Regions from separate parts of the Homo sapiens genome. Here region 1 is linked to region 2. A link means that fine-mapping ties the variant in region 2 to the expression of a gene that starts in the linked region. Tissue or cell type: lymphoblastoid cells. Region 2 holds a variant in brackets; the other region holds the start of a gene. All regions are shown on one strand. Distances are between the middles of the regions.

Region 1 (8,100 bases), 36 kb before region 2:
CTCCCGGGTTCAAGCGATTCTCCTGCCTCAGCCTCCTAAGTAGCTGGGATTACAGGCATCCATCACCGGGCCTGGCTAATTTTTTGTGTGTTTTTTAGTAGAGATGGGGTTTCACCATATTGGCCAGACTGGTTTCAAACTCCTTACCTCAGGTGATCCGCCCACCTCGGCCTCCCAAAGTTCTGGGATTACAGGCGTGAGCCACCGCACCTGGCCAGCAATCTTGTTTTTGAAGTCCCCTTTACCTCACAGCCTGTGGCCTGGCATGGATTAAAAGTTTGAGTGAGTATATGAGTATTCAAGATGGAAACTTGGGACACCCTCCCTTTTCCTTTAGAGGCCCTGGGAGAAAGTGCCGCAGTGAAGGGGACTGAGGAGGAATTATTAGGTAGGAAGAGAACATGGCAGAAACTAGATCAGAGAGGTGGGAAGTAAAGGGAGGAGAGAATTTCAAAGACAGAGAGTGCACAATCTATCTGTCCCATGGTCCAGGGACTCCGGTATGGCTCAATGAGTTAGGGAGGTGATATGGCCTCTAGTTCATTGCATTTCCCCTCCCAGTTAGCTCTGTGACTGGCAACCACAAAGAGAAATCAGACAGAATCACAAGGCCCTGCCCTGATGCTGACATAAAAGGTAACTGGCTACGTTGTCTATATAATCAGAGGGTTGAGGGGCCTCAGAGTGTAACTGTGGGGCATTAAGTGCAACGTGAGAGACCAAAGGTCTTTTCTTTTTTTCTTTTTTCTGTTTTTCTTTTTTTTTTTTTTTTAGCCAGAGTCTCACTCTGTCGCTAGGCTGGAGTGCAGTGGTGCAATCTTGGCTCACTGCAAATTCCGATTCCCTGGATCAAGCAGTTCTCCTCCCTCAGCCTCCTGAGTAGCTGGGATTACAGGCACACGCTACCACGCCCAGCTAATTTTAGTATTTTAGTAGAGATGGGGTTTCACTATGTTGGCCAGGATGGTCTCGATCTCCTGACCTCGTGATCCAACCACCTCAGCCTCCCAAAGTGCTGGGATTACAGGTGTGAGCCACCTTGCCTGGCTGTGAGGGACCAAAGGTCTTTTCTCCTGGGTCACATCCAGCTCTGGCCCCTGCCAGCCCTCCCCATTTCCATTTCCCCACTGGATACCCAGGGAGGGCTAAGTAAAGACTCGGGTTTGCTTTGAAATAAAAGCACATGCTGGCCACAGATAGAAAGGCGGGGAGACTCCTTTAGCAAATGTATGGAGATCCCAGTGTGCCGGACCCCAGGCTGAATGCTGGGTTTTCTGTTCTCACAGCCAGGAAAGCACAGATGGAGGTAAGAGGTGAGGAGAGGGACAAAATGATCACCTGTCTTCTACTCATGAGGCTTTCTGGATCAGGAGGAGTTTCAGCAGTTGTCTAAGTCTAGAAGAGAGATGGTTGTATGTATGTGTGTGCGTGTATGTGTGGCTTGGGGTGACATGGGAAGTGTGAAGGGTGTCCGAAAGAGAGAGATTGGGAAGGAGGGAAATGAGACAGGTTAGTGGGAGATGGATTCTGGGGGCAAGGTTCATGGCATCCCTGGGGGCTCCTCAGGAACTGGTTGAATAATCTGTAGCCCCTGGACACTAGGCGTCTACATTGGACCATTTGCTGTGGTTGTTAGGAGGAGGACAACATTCCTGTTGCAGGAAGTTAGCCGACAACCATCAATGAAGGTCATAAGGATGAGCAGTTCACAAAGCTCCTACACCCTTGTTTCTCATTTAATGTCTGAAAAATCCCTGTAAAGCATAAAACAGACTCACAAAAGGAGGGTCCCAGCCAGGTGCAGTGACTCACGCTTATCATTCCAGCACTTTGGGAGGCTGAAGCGGGAGGGTCCCTTGAGCCCAGGAGTTCAAGACCAGCCTGGGTAACATAGTGAGACTCCATCTCTACAAATAATTCTAGAAATTAGCCAGGCATGGTGGAGTGAGGTGGTGGTCCCAGCAACTTGGGAGGCTAAGGTGAGAGGATCATCTGAGCCAGGGAGGTGGAGGTTACAGTGAGCTGAGATCATGCCACCACTGCACTCTAGCCTGAGCAACAGAGCAAGACCCTGTTTCAAAAAATAATAATAAAGAAGTCCCTTAGCAAAGAAGTGTTGGAGCTAGGGGTTGAGTTCCAAGTCCCCCATAAGGCAAAGGCCACAGGCTTTTTGCCCTGTGTCCCAAGGTAGGGGAACCAGGCAGAGCTGGAATGTGTGCTGTTTGCTTGCCCAAAAACCTATCCAGGCTTACAGGCCAATTGGGAGAAAACATAAAACATCCTCCACAGCCTACATTGAGCCAAACAAAACTTGATTTTGAGGGATTGTGCAGGTGTGGGAAGAGGAAAGACTCTTGTTATGGGAGTCAGGATAGCGGGTTCCACCTCGACTGGGCCCTTGCTGTTTGCGTGTCATTGAATCTCTCTGAAATGCAGTTTCTTCACATATAAAATGTGGATAAAAGCGCCTACCTCCTAGGAATGATGTGAGGACTCAACAAGAGAATGCACGTGTTGTTCTGAATGTAGTACGGTGCACATAGCAAGCACTCAGTACTCCTTAGGTTTTATTATTGCCGTTATTAATACAAAGAGGTTGTGCTGCATGGTTGCTCATTCAGGCCCTGGTGGCTGTTTCCCACCTTCAGCCCTGGCTCCTGTGGCTAGAGCCCTGGTGCCCACAGCTCAACCTGGACCTGTCCACCCTTGAAGGGCTCATGATGCAGCATCAGGGAGTCCCAGATCGAGCCGCTGACACCTCCAAGTCGGCTGCAGCTGTGCATCCGCTCAGACCACAAGACTCAATGGAGGATGCTGACCTCTCTTTGTTCTCCCAACGAGTACTAGGCAAGGAGGGAAGGAAGGTGAGCGCTTAGAAAAAACGTGTTGGTTTCAACTGAAATGACATTAAGCTATCGTGGAGGTAAAGGAGAGGGGTTGAGCCGGTCAGGAATCCAGGCAACCTGACCCTATTTGCCAGTGTCCGCTTTTAATTTTGGTCGCTAAGGGCAAGCGCCCGTGACAAACATGGCGGCGGCAGCCTCAGGCGCAGTCACCTGCCGGAGCTGCGCCCGGGGGCCGCGCGGAGCCAATCGCTGGGCGGGGGCGGAGGGAGAGGCTGGGGAAGCCCTAGAAGTGCGCGCAGGCGCATTGGCTCGCACCTGGCTCCCGCCAGCCGTGGGATTAGGCTTCGCCGGCTACGATTGCGGTGAGACGCTGGCCAGCGGCCGGGGCTCGCGGGCAGGAGCGGGCTGGGCTGGGGCCGATCTGGCACAAACGACAGACCCGAGGGGGAGGGGAATGCTTTGCGCTCTGGGAGTCATGGGGGCTATCTGCGGGGGTCTTTGGGGTGATCATATTGTGGATTGGGAGAGTTGTGTGGTCCGGGCGGAAGAAGCGGGGTTCAAGGGGGCAAGGGTGGAATCCTCGCAGAAAGGCTCTCCGGGGGTCTGGAGGAAAGGGATGCAGTGGGTCAAATAGCTCCCTGGTGGTCTGGGATCGAGGGATGCACTGGTCAGGTCGGGATCCGTGCCATTAGCATAAAGGCATTTAACCCTGGTGGCACTTGGGGAGCTTTGAAAAACACCGATGCTGGGCCCGCCCGAAGAGATTCCGATTTAACTGTTCTGGGTGAGGCCTGGGCCTCGGTATTATTGCACAGCTCCTCAGGTGATTTTAACGTGCAGGCGGTGGGGAGCAGCCCTACACGTGTTTCAGCACCAGCTATTGAGTGAAGAGCTCCTGGGCTGATCCCAAACTCCTCAGTGGCTTGGGAGGGGTGGGTGGTCCTGAGGTGAAGCTGTCGCCTCTTCTGGGACCTGTGGGGGAGGGAGAGGGAGAAGGTCCCCATCTCAACAAGTTGAAAGCTCATTTCCAGCCGGAGGAGGAGGATGGGCCCCCACCCCCCAACCCTGGTGCTAGACCCTGCTGTGGGGAGACTGGGCAGGAAGACAAGACCCCGAGAGTGAAACAGGAAACACAGCAGACAATTCAGGGGTCAGCTGCCTGTTGAGAAAAGGGCACATATTATACCTTTCATGTTCATTTGTTCATTTGGTATTCCTGAGGATAGGCAGAGAATGGAATTGTTTTCTCTGCTTCACAGATGTAGGAATAGACTCAGATAGTAAGTTAAAGATAATGTTCACACCTGACCCAGGGCTCCTGACTCCAAATTATGCCTCTTCTTAGCTTTTACCTCTGCACTAATGTCTCTTGTACAGTCTGATACCTCTCACTCCAGGGGCCCAGTTCGGCATTCTTGGTTTCCGCCACTAAATTCATCAACCTCCCCCACCCACCATAGGTTGGTTCAGAAATCAGGGAGATGTTGCTGCTTCCATCCCTTTCTAGTCTTTACCTACCAGGGGCCTGGTAGGGTGAAGGGGAAGAGTTTTGACACCTGCTAGAGGGCTTCTTCCAAACAGATCTGTCACTTCCCCACCCCCAGCGCCCCACCTGTTGTCCTCAGCATAGAATCTTGCACAAGGTTTACAAAACCCTTCCTGATGTGGCCCCTTTCTCCCGCGCTGCTCTGAGCTCTCTTCCCAGATTGTTTCTGTGTCTCTTAGCACAGTGCTGTGCACCCGGCGAAAGCTTAATAAATGTTCCTCTGTTATGATCACTATTCTTCTTTGTACCTGCTGCCTTGCTTTAGTGTCTTACTCAGAGAGGCACATCAAGCCTCCCAGGCTGCCCCTTCTCTCTGACTCCCACAGTTAAGCAGAACACAGAGCTAGGAGGGGCACAGTGGGGTCTGAAGATGACAGTTTTCCTATGACTGCTGCTGCTGTTCCCTAGGGCTGAGGATGTTGTTGATATTGACCTTTTAGGGGCCAATCGACCCAGCAGGGATTGACTGAGCAAGCTGAGGGAGCCTGGTGGAGGCAAAGGGCAGGGATCAAGGGCGGGACTAACCCAGCCCTGCTTTTTTTTTTTTTTTTTTTAAGAGACGGAGTCTCACTCTGTCCTCCAGGCTGGAGTGCAGTGGCGCGATTTCGGCTCACTGCAAGCTCCTCCTCCCGGGTTCACGCTATTCTGCCTCAGCCTCCCGAGTAAGCTGGTACTACAGGCGTGCCCGCCACCACGCCTGGCTAATTTTTGTATTTTTAGTAGAGAGGAGGTTTCATCGTGTTAGCCAGGATGATCTCGATCTCCTGACCTCGTGATTCGCCCGCGTCGGCCTCCCCAAGTGCTGGGATTACAGGCGTGAGCCACCGCGCCCGGTATCAGCCCTGCTTTTAAGAAGCCTGTGGGCTGGAGGAGGGGAAGGGAGGCATTTGGATGCCTGATAAGGGGGAAAACGGGAGAGAACACGTGATTGGGTGTGCTTGGGAAAGCCGTGACACTGGATGAGCAGGATTTGATAAGATGGGGGCAGGGTGTGGGGGGGATGATGAAGTGAGAACGCTGTTGTTTTAGTCAAAACCTGTTTTGAATCTTGACTCCAGCACCTACTAGCTTTGTAACTTGGGCCTGTTATTTAATCTTCAGAGCCTTGGTTTCTTCATGTACAGAACGTGAATGCAGATAGTAACAGAGCTGTAAGGGGTCTGATGATGGATATAAAAGCCAAGCATACCCTGTATGGCTGAGGAATAGTATATAGTTATCCTAGGGTATCTTAGGTGACAGGAACAGCATGAACAAAAGTGTGGAGGTGGCATTTAGAAAGGAATTTGATGGATGGCAGACAAGAGGGGCTAGGATATTCCAGGTGGCAAAAGGCATAAAGCTTGGGTGCTGGAAAGACAATTTCAATCATGGATTTGGCAGAAAGGTCAATGATTTTTATTTTTGATTGATGTTGCCCCAGCTGGTCTCTAACTTCTGGCCCCAAGTAATCCTTCTGTCTTGGCCTTCCCAAGTCCTAAAATTACAGGCATGAGCCACAACGCCCCACCTAGTGACTGATCTTTAAAGATCATGAAACCACACGGTGGCTCTCGCCTGTGAGCCAGCACTTCAGGAGGCCAAGGCGGGCGGATTGCTTGAGGTCAGGAGTTCAAGACCAGCCTGGCCAACGTGGCGAAACCCCGTCTGTACAAAAAATACAAAAATTAGCCAGGCATGGTGGCGCACGCCTGTGATCCCAACCATTTGGGAGGCTGAGGCAGGAAAATTTCTTGAACCTGGGAGGCGGAGGTTGCAGTGAGCCAAGATCCCACCACTGCACTCTAGCCTGGGCGACAGAGTGAGACTCCGTCTCAAAAAAAAAAAAATCATGAAACCAAACTTCAAAGAAATGGAAAGAAAATGGCTACTGTAGGCCGGGCGCAGTGGCTCATGCCTGTAATCCCAGCAGTTTGGGAGGCCAAGGTGGGTGGATCACAAGGTCAGGAGTTCAAGACTAACCTGACCAACATGGTGAAACCCTGTCTCTACTAAAAATACAAAAATTAGCTGGGCGTGGTGGTGCATGCCTGTAATCCCAGCTACTCGGGTGGCTGAAGCAGGAGAATTGCTTGAACCTGGGAGGCAGAGGTTGCAGTAAGCCGAGATTGTGCCACTGCACTCCAGCCTGGGCAACAGAGCGAGACTCTGTCTCAAAAAAAAAAAAAAAAGAGGAAAAAGAAAAAGAAAATGGCTACTGTGGGCCAGGCATAGTGGCTCACACCTGTAATCCCAACACTTTGGGAGGCCGAGGCAGGTAAATCACTTGAGGTCAGGAGTTCAAGACCAGCCTGGCCAATATGGTGAAACCCCAGTTCTATGAAAAATACAAAAATTAGGCCGGGTGTGGAGGCTCATGGCTGCAATCCCAGTACTTTGGGAGGCCGAGGCAGGCGGATCACAAGGTCAGGAGTTTGAGACCAGCCTGACCAATATGGTGAAACCCCGTCTCTACTAAATATACAAAAAAAAAATTTGCCGAGTGTGGTGGCGTGCGCCTGTAAATCCCAGCTACTCAGGAGGCTGAGGCAGGAGAATGGCTTGAACCCAGGAGGCAGAGGTTGCAGTGAGCCTAGATTGCGCCACTGCACTCCAGCCTGGGCGACAGAGCAAGACTCCATCTCTACAAAAAGAAAAAAAATTAGCCGAGTGTGGTGGCAGGCGCCTGTAATCCCAGCTACTGAGGAGACTGAGGAAGGAGAATTGCTTGAACCCAGGAGGCGGAGGTTGCAGTGAGCTGAGATTGAGCCACTGCACTCCAGCCTGCGTGACAGAGCGAGACTCTATCTTTAAAAAAAAAAAAATAGCTGCTGTGTATTGAGGGTCTTCCACGTAGCAGGCACTTGGCTTTAAATTCCTTTTGCATTTCAGCCCACAGCCATCTAAGAGGTTGACATTAACATCCCCACTTTGTGGGCGAGGAGCCTGAGGCTCAGGGAGAGGGAGTGACTGGCTCAAGGCCACCAGCTGGGACCATGAGGGTGGGTCTTGGAAGGTGCCAGGGAGGTGGGTGGAGTTGGTTGCAGGTTACAGGATTTCTCACCAGCTTATGCAAGGAGGCTGGTGTGGGCTCCAAGCTGTTCTTCCCTGGGAGAGGTGGGGCTGCTGTTCTCTGCTGGGGCAGATTGAGGGTGGGGAGGGCAAGTGGGAGAAGGCTGTTTCCCGATGGAGGAGTGGAATCTGGAAGAGAAAACATTAAAAGAGTAACCCTGCACACTCCTGCCTCAGCTTCCTCTCCAGGATGGCTGTTTACCTGGACAAGTTGCAGTTGGCACAGGTCTACAGGGGGCCGGGGGCAGTTTGTCTTTGGCATTCTCAAACATTGTATGTGTTCCTGCTCCTTGCAGGCCCCCATCTTCTGACTTTTCCTCGTGTGACCCATCTTTTCAAATTCCCTTACCTGAGGAAGGAGCCCGATTACAAGGATATTTACCTGCTCCTACCCTGATCTAGGTGAGCCCAATAAAAAGCTACTTTCTGAGCATCTTCCGTGTGACAGCACGGTGCTCTGTGCTTCCTGGACATTTGTTTAATCCTTTCTGTACCCCTGTAAAGATAGGCATTATTGGCCAGGCGCGGTGGCTCACACCTGTAATCCCAGCACTTTGGGAGGCTGAGGTGGGTAGATCACCTGAGGTCAGGAGTTCAAGACCAGCCTGGGCAACATGGTGAAACCCCATCTCTACAAAAATACAAAAATAAGCTGGG
Region 2 (8,100 bases):
CCAACCAACCAAACAAACAAAAAGTATGGCTGGGTGCGGTGGCCCACGCCTGTCACCCCATCACTTTGGAAGGCAGATGAGGGAGGATTGCTTGAGGCCAAGAGTTCGAGAGACCAGCCTGGGCAACATGGCAAAACGCTGTCTCTACAAAATATTAATTTTAATTTTAATTTTAATTTTTTTGAGATGGAGTCTGGCTCTGTCACCCACCTAGAGTGCGGTGGCACAATCTCGGCTCACTGTAACCTCCGCCTCCTGGATTTAAGCGATAGTCCTGTCTCAGACTCCTGAGTAGTTGTTGTTACAGGTGTGCGCCACCACGCCCGGCTAATTTTTGTATTTTTAGTGTAGAGGGGGTTTCACCATGTTGGCCAGGCTGGTCTCGAACTCCTGATCTCAAGTGATCCACCCGCCTTGGCCTCCCAAAGTGCTAGGATTACAGGCATGTGCCACCACACCAGGCCTACAAAATATTTAAAAATTACTCGGGTGTGGTGGTGCGGGTCCATAGTCCTTGCTACTTGGGAGGCTGAGCCCAAGAGGTCAGGGCTGCAGTGAGCTGTGATCTTGCCACTGCACTCCAGACTGGGCGATAGAGTGAGCCTCTGCCTCAAAAAATATATACAAAAAATTCAAAATAAGGCCAGGCGCAGTAGCTCACACCTGTAATCCCAGCATTTTGCGAGGCCAAGGCGGGCAGATCACGAGGTCAGGAGATTGAGACCATCCTGGCTAACACGGTGAAACCCCGTCTTCACTAAAAGTACAAAAAATTAGCCGGGTGAAGTGGTGGGCGCCTGTAGTCCCAGCTACTCTGGAGGCTGAGGCAGGAGAATGGCGTGAACCCAGGAGGCGGAGCTTGTAGTGAGCAGACATTGCGCGACTGCACTCCAGCCTGGACGACAGTGCGAGACTCCATCTAAAAAAAAAAAAATTAGCCGGGTGTGGTGGCACGTGCCTATAGTCCCAGTACTCGGGAGGCTGAGGCAGGAGAATCTCTTGAACCCACAAGGGGGAGGTTGCAGTGAGCCGAGATTGCGCCACTGCAATTTAGCCTGGGCGACAGAGACAGCCTCCGTCTCAAAATAAATAAATAAATAAATACACAATTTTTTTTTTTTTTTTTTTTTTTGATACGGACTCTTGCTCTGTCGCCCAGGCTGGAGTGCAGTGGCGTGATCTCGGCTCACTGCAAGCTCCGCCTCCCGGGTCCAAAGCCATTCTCCTGCCTCAGCCTCCCGAGTAGCTGGGACCACAGGCGCCTGCCACCACACCTGGCTAATTTTTTTGTATTTTTATTTTATTTTGTTTTTGTTTGAGACGCAGTCTCGCTCTGTTGCCCAGGCTGGAGTCCAGTGGCGAGATCTCGGCTCACTGCAAGTTCCGCCTCCCGGGTTCATGCCATTCTCCTGCCTCAGCCTCCTGCATAGCTGGGACTACAGGTGCCCGCCACCACGCCTGGCTAATTTTTTGTATTTTTAATAAAGACGGGGTTTCACCATGTTAGCCAGGATGGTCTCGATCTCCTGACCTCGATAAATACACAAATTTTTAAAAATCAGAATATCTGGCAACACTAGGCCGGTATTCCTGCATGGGGACAATTGGATAGAAAGGAGAATCAGTTAACATTTTGGTCAGGCATGCTCAATTCAATGCACCTTTCAGATTTCCCAGCCTGGAAGAGGTGCCTTTCAGGCTATTCTCTCTCTTCTCTTTTGAGTATATTTCCATTCCTGCTTGGCCTCTGCAGGCATTGAATTTGAAATCCCTATTCTAGGCATTTGCAGCCACTAATTGGTGACGTTTCTTCTTCCACATGGTATCTGATTTCTTTTTTACCCTCAGAGGACTTAGCTCAGTGTGAAGCACATCCTTGGCTTGCAAAATATACATAATTGAACAGTGAAAATATCTTTATAAGTCACCTCTTCTTCACCTTTTCTGTCAAGCTAGGGATGGATTCTTGCTGAAGCTGTACAACCAACAGCCTGAATATCACACTGCAAGTGACAGTGTTAGATAAATACATTGACTTCATTTCCTCAGCTAATTCTAGTGTCCCTAAAAACTTAAGTGAATCAGCATTAGTAGGATCAGAAAAGCTGATAACAAATTGTAAAAGAAAAATTTTTTTAGACAATTAGTGAAATCTGAACATTGACTAGATAACTGATAAGATTAAGGGGTTCTTGTTGATTTGATTAGGCATGATAATAGTATATTGATTATGTTTTTAAATGAGTGTGGGGCTGGGCGTGGTGGCTCACGCCTATAATCCTAGCACATTGGGAGGCTGAGGCGGGTGGATCCTTTGAGGCCAGAAGTTCGAGACCAGCCTGGCCAACATGGCAAAACCCCGTCTCTACTAAAAATACAAAAATTAGCTGGGCATGGTGGTGCATGCCTGTAGTCCCAACTACTCGGGAGGCTGAAGCAGGAGAATCGCTTGAGCCACGGAGGTGGAGGTTGCAGTGAGCATCACTGCACTCCAGCCTGGGCCACACAGCAGACTCCATCTCAGGAAAAAAAAAAAAAAAAAAAAAAGAATGTGGGAGAGGGAAATGGGCAGGAATGTAGTTGAAAAGATTGGCCAAGAGTTTGATAACTGTTACAGCTAGGTGAACGTATGGATGTTCCTTACACTATTCCTTCTCCTTTGTATGTTTGAAATTGCTATAATAAAAAGAGATAACAGTAGGATGATAGCACTTAAGTAAACTTTCAAAACACAAACAGCACACTCCCCTGCCAAACTTAAAATGCATATGCACATAAAATCATGGATGGATCTAGGCATGGTGGCTTGCTCCTCCTATACTCCCAGCTACTTGGGAGGCTGAGGCAGGAGGTTTGCTCGAGCTCAGGAGTTTGAGGCTGCAGTGAGCTACGACTGCAGCACTGCACTCTAATCTGGGTGATAGAGTGAGACCTCATCTCTAAAAAAAATTTAAAAACAAATAATAATTAAAAATTAAAAAAAATCATAGGTGGAAAGGAGCACAATTTTTTTTTTTAAAGAGATGGGGGTCTTGCTGTATTGCCCAGGCTGGCCTTGAACAACACAATTCTCCTGACTTATCTTCCAGAGTATAAAAGGAGGACAATTTTATGATGATGGTTGTTTTGCGGATTATTTGTAAAACAGAGAGAAAGGATAGGGTTGCCAGGCACAGTGGCTCATGCCTGTAATACCAGCACTTTGGGAAGCTGAGGTGGGAGGACTGCTTCAGCCCAGGAGTTCTAGATCAGCCTGGGGAACACAGGGAGACCCCATTTCTACAAAAAAAAAAAAAAAGGCTGAGCAGGTGGTACACGGCTGTAGTCCCAGCTACTTGGGAGGCTGAGGTGGGAGGATTGCTTAAGCTTGGCAAGCTGAGGCTGCAGTGAGCTTTGATTGTGCCAATGAGCCCCAACCTGGGCAACAGAGTGAGACCTTGTCTCAAAAAAAAAAAAAAGATAGGGTTGTGGAGGGGTACAAAGAGTCTTCAATTATATCTGTAATGTTTTATTTCCTTAAAACATGAAGGTGGATGGGAACACTAAAGCAAAAAAAATACTGAAGCAAATATGGCAACATCAATATTTACTAAATCTGGGTAGTAGACACATGCTACCTGGGTGCTTGTTATATACCACACCGAATTTTTCTGTGTGTTTAAAGTATCTCTCTCTCTC[T/TC]TTTTTTTTTTTTAAAGGGGGCTGAAGCAGCACAACATCCAAAGCAAAACAAACAAATGCTTAGCTTATTGTTGAACTTCTGAAGAGCCTGCATTTAGGTCCATATAGTCACAAAGACAGTTTTAAGTTTGACAGGAATGTTGATCCATTTTAGGTTCAGGCAAAACTGTAAACTTAGAGTTTTTTTGTTTTTGTTTTTAAATAGGCTGGAGTGAGGTGCACGATCTCACTGCAGCCTCAAACTCCTGGGCTCAAGTGATTCTCCCATCTCAGCCTCCTACAGGTGCATGCCACCAAGCAAGCCTGGCTAATTTTTTTTTTTTTTTAAAGTAGAGATGAAGTCTCACTATGTTGCCCAGGCTGGTCTCCAATTCCTGGGCTCAAACGATCTTCCAGCCTTGGCTTTCCAAAATGCTGGAATTACAGGAGTAAGCCACCACATTTGGCCTGGATCTTAGGAAAAATTTGAGTTTCAGAATAAACATAGTATTCTGATCAAAGTGTAGTCCTCAAAATGTGGCCTAGGAGCTGCTCCTATCTTACACTATTCTCTATGTCTTTGGGAAGAAATGACTTATATTTGGTTTTAAAAAATATCTATCATCATAAAGCTTCTTGGGTGATTAAAAAAATACCTATCACTTTATTGTTGTCATTAAAGCACACACCTACCTGCCCCTCCATTTTCCTCATTAAATTCTGATGAAATGACTTGATGCCAGAGTAAGATGAAAGACGTGGTCACAATTGTCTTATGATTGGGAAAGGCTGTGAACTTAATGGGGCTCTTTCCCTGCTTTCTTTCTCCTGCATTCTTTTGATTATACTCTTCTGCCCATAAATAAAGTGTAGCAACATGTTAAGCTATGGAGTTAACATAGCTAGTGATACATTATTCTCATTATATGTAATAAGTTGTCTCAGGTATTTCAAATAATGTTTCCTATACATCTACCATCTTGAAAATAATAAAAACAAAATGACCCCCCAAATGTTAAACAACAAGGACTACCTGAGACCGCACATGTAAAAATGTGGCAGATTTTCAGCAAATACTAATAGGAAAATGACTTAAGTTTCTCCTACTTCACCTTTTGGCAGAAATACTGGCATAATAAAGGACATGTTTTCCCAGAGGGGGAAAAAAAAGACAAGTCAATTCTTTAAATCTTGAAACTAAAAATGCATCACTGCTGTAATGCATTTCGAAACATACTACCAGGAAAGAGAAAGAAAAAAATTAAGACGCATTAGTGTAAGTGATATTAAAGAAAATGGCCGGAGATGGAACTCCTGCCTAGCAATTCAAGAAGCAAAGGAGCTGGTGGGATAGACAGGTTGTTCCTTCTGCATTGCTGATGAAAACAGGAAATTGAATTTCTATATATTTTTCCTTTTTACAACTAAGAAAAAGGCAGAAGAAGCACAAAGAGCCTGGCTAAAGACAGAAATCGTAGTGCTCTCTGAAAATCAACATCAAGAACAAAAAGTCCTACTCAATTATCTGCAGTAACTAACTAGAGAAAACTCCCCATCTTTTCTTTATTTAGGAATATCTTTGTTACTTTGATAGAGATATTCAGTCATTCATCCAATCACCCATCAATCCAATGAAAAAACATTTATTGAGCACACAGAGGTGCCAGACCCTAGGTATACTGTGTGTGTGTGGAGAGAAGTGGGTGAAGTGAGACTAAAGGAATATCATCTTTCTTAAATTTTTTTTCCCAACACCACTAAACCTGTGGGAGAATATCATCTTTTTCCACAAGGATTTAATAGTCTAGTGAGGGAGACAAAAAGATCCTCTCAAAAATGAAGTATCTGGGCTGGGTGTGGTGGCTCATGCTTGTAATCCCAGCACTTTGGGAGGCCAAGGCGGGTGGATCATTTGAGGTCAGGAGTTCAGGACAAGTCTGGCCAATATGGTGAAACCCCATCTCTACTAAAAATACAAAAATTAGGCCGGGCGCGGTGGCTGACGCCTGTAATACCAGCACTTTGGGAGGCCGAGGTGGGCGGATCACGAGGTCAGGAGATCGAGACCATCCTGGCTAACACGGTGAAACCCCATCTCTACTAAAAATACAAAAAATTAGCCGGGCGAGGTGACGGGCGCCTGTAGTCCCAGCTACTCGGGAGGCTGAGGCAGGAGAATGGCGTGAACCCGGGAGGCGGAGCTTGCAGTGAGCCGAGATCGCGCCACTGCACTCCAGCCTGGGCGACAGTGAGACTCCGTCTCAAAAACAAACAAACAAACAAACAAACAAACAAACAAACAAAAATTAGCCAGGCGTGGTGGTGCACATCTGTAATCCCAGCTACTTGGGAGTCTAGGCTGGAGAATCTCTTGAACCTGGAGGCGGAGGCTGCAGTGAGCTGAGATCGCACAATTGCACTCCAGCCTGGGTGACAAAGCGAGATCCTGTTCCCTCCACCCCCCCACACCAAAAAAAGAGGCGTCTCTGCCAGGCACGGTGGCTCAGGCCTATAATCCCAGCACTTTGGGAGGCCAAGGTAGGAGAATCGCAACAGCCCAGGAGTTTGAGACCAGCCTGGACAACATGGTGAAACCCTTCCTACAAAAAATACAAAAATTAGCCAGGGGTGGTGGCGCGTGCCTGCAGCCCCAGCTACTCGGGAGGCTTAAGCGGGAGGATCACTTGAGCCCAGGAGGTTGAGGCTGCAGTGAGCTGTGATCGCGCCACTGCATTTCAGACTCAGCAACAGAGCGAGACCCTGTCTCCAAAAAAAAAAAAGAAAAAAAAAATGAGCTGTCTCATTGAGCTCAATCCTGCCCCTTTCTAAGGGGGAATAATAAAAACAAAATACCCATGGAGAGAAGGAAAATTTAATGAAAACAACAACAAAAATATATTGGAAAAAGCAAGCAACTTGGAACTGGATCTTAGTCTGATGACTGGCTCCTCAATTCCTAAACTGGATGGTTTGAAATCTGTTATTTAACATCCCTGCATACACTGGGGATAGTAATTCCTATCTACCTAACAGAGCTGAAGCTTAAACGAGAACATTGTAATATGCCTAAGGTCCCAAGAGCTGAATCAACAAAGGGAATCTGACAGAGTCAGCTTACAACAGAGGGAACTGGTAGTTTTGCCTCAATGGAGGGACCTACAAGGGACACAGACAGGGATCAATCTCTGTGGGACCAAAGCTTTGAATCGAAGGCAGAAATGCAGTCGTTTTACAATTTTCTCCTTTCCCCCCAAAATAAGAGCAGTATTTAGATTCTTTCTATTGGTCAATATTGATGCTTCTGCATGGTGGTGCTGGCAAAAGGGATGACGGATAAAGTACTGGATTTAGGGCACCTCTGCTATGTGACCTTGGGCTCACGTTACGTCTTCGCGCTTCAGTTTTCTCATCGGTAACACGAAGATCAAAGTTCCTTTTAAACTATGCGTCCAGTTTTTGTGAGGATCCAACTCGAATGTATGTGAAAACGCCCTGGAAGCGCTAGAGCGCCAGGCAAATATTAAGTTTGGTAATTTTTTCCCCGTAAGAACTAGGCGTTCCAAAGAGGAGGACAACCTCTCTGCTTCCTTTGTCACTCTCCTTTCTTCTCGACCTTTACCAACTTTGTAATTTATAATCACAGTAATAGCTGACATCCTACAGCGGTTTCTGGCACCAGATTCTCGGGCCCCACCCAGATCCACACCACCAAGCCGCAGCGCCGGCTGAGACCGAAGGAAAACTTAGCCGTTCTCCACCCGCGGGCGGGCACTCGCCTCTAGGCCCCACCACCCAGAGTCCCGGAAGCCAATCCCCACAGCCCTGGAGCACTGCCCCGCCCCTTCAAGAGGGAAAACAATATGGCGGCAAGGAAGAATGGCAGGGGCGTGAGCCAATCACCGCAGAGGCCTAGCCTCATCCGGCAAGGCTAAGAGGCGGTATCATTGGCTAAGATGGACAGCCAGAGCAACCAATAGAGCGATCGGAAATGGGGGAGAGGGCGGGCGACGGGAATCTCACACAGCGGTTAAGGCCCCTAGAGCCAAGGGCCCAAGGACTGGCTTGGACTATAACTCTTTCCTTTATCCACTCCAGAGTTCTCCATCCCACTTTTGCTGGCTGGCCGCCTTGCCTGCGGACTATGTGATAAGGGGAGGAAGGAGGCGGCGGTGGCTGAACGCGCCTGACAGGCCGGGCCAGTGACAAAGAGCCGGCGGCTCAGGCTGAACCCCGGGAAGCGATCCTTTCGAGGAGGAGAGCCCAAGTCCCCTTATAGATAGGAAAGACGCAACTCACGTTGTCGATCACGACAGGCTGGTTGGCGATCACATCGTAGGACTCCATGGCAGAGGAATCTCTCCTTCTGGGGAAGGAACTGCCCAGCCGGGTCCGCCGCTAGCGCCACTGACACGCATGCGCAGTCTAGCCGCCGGTTCAGGGCGG

What was found. PIP is the estimated chance that this variant, and not a neighbour inherited with it, causes the effect.
Region 1: SLC68A1 starts here. The variant in region 2 is fine-mapped to the expression of SLC68A1 in lymphoblastoid cells (GEUVADIS, PIP 0.95). The same link has a PIP of 0.9 or more in prefrontal cortex.

Annotation. Positions count from the first base shown.
Region 1 is chr10:102,458,243-102,466,342 of GRCh38, forward strand. It overlaps SLC68A1 (solute carrier family 68 member 1), which reads left to right and starts at 3,153. Exons shown (of 10, transcript NM_024789.4): 1 at 3,153-3,208; 2 at 7,740-7,845. It overlaps LOC124902493 (a long non-coding RNA gene), which reads right to left. Exons shown (of 3, transcript XR_007062270.1): 2 at 7,436-7,572; 3 at 2,551-3,818. RefSeq lists enhancers at 2,672-2,741, 2,869-3,552, 3,553-4,235 and a silencer at 3,012-3,231.
Region 2 is chr10:102,494,647-102,502,746 of GRCh38, forward strand. It overlaps ACTR1A (actin related protein 1A), which reads right to left and starts at 8,066. Exons shown (of 11, transcript NM_005736.4): 1 at 7,954-8,066. The coding sequence starts at 8,001. RefSeq lists enhancers at 6,050-6,550, 7,945-8,044. The variant T/TC (reference allele first, on the strand shown) is at 3,679.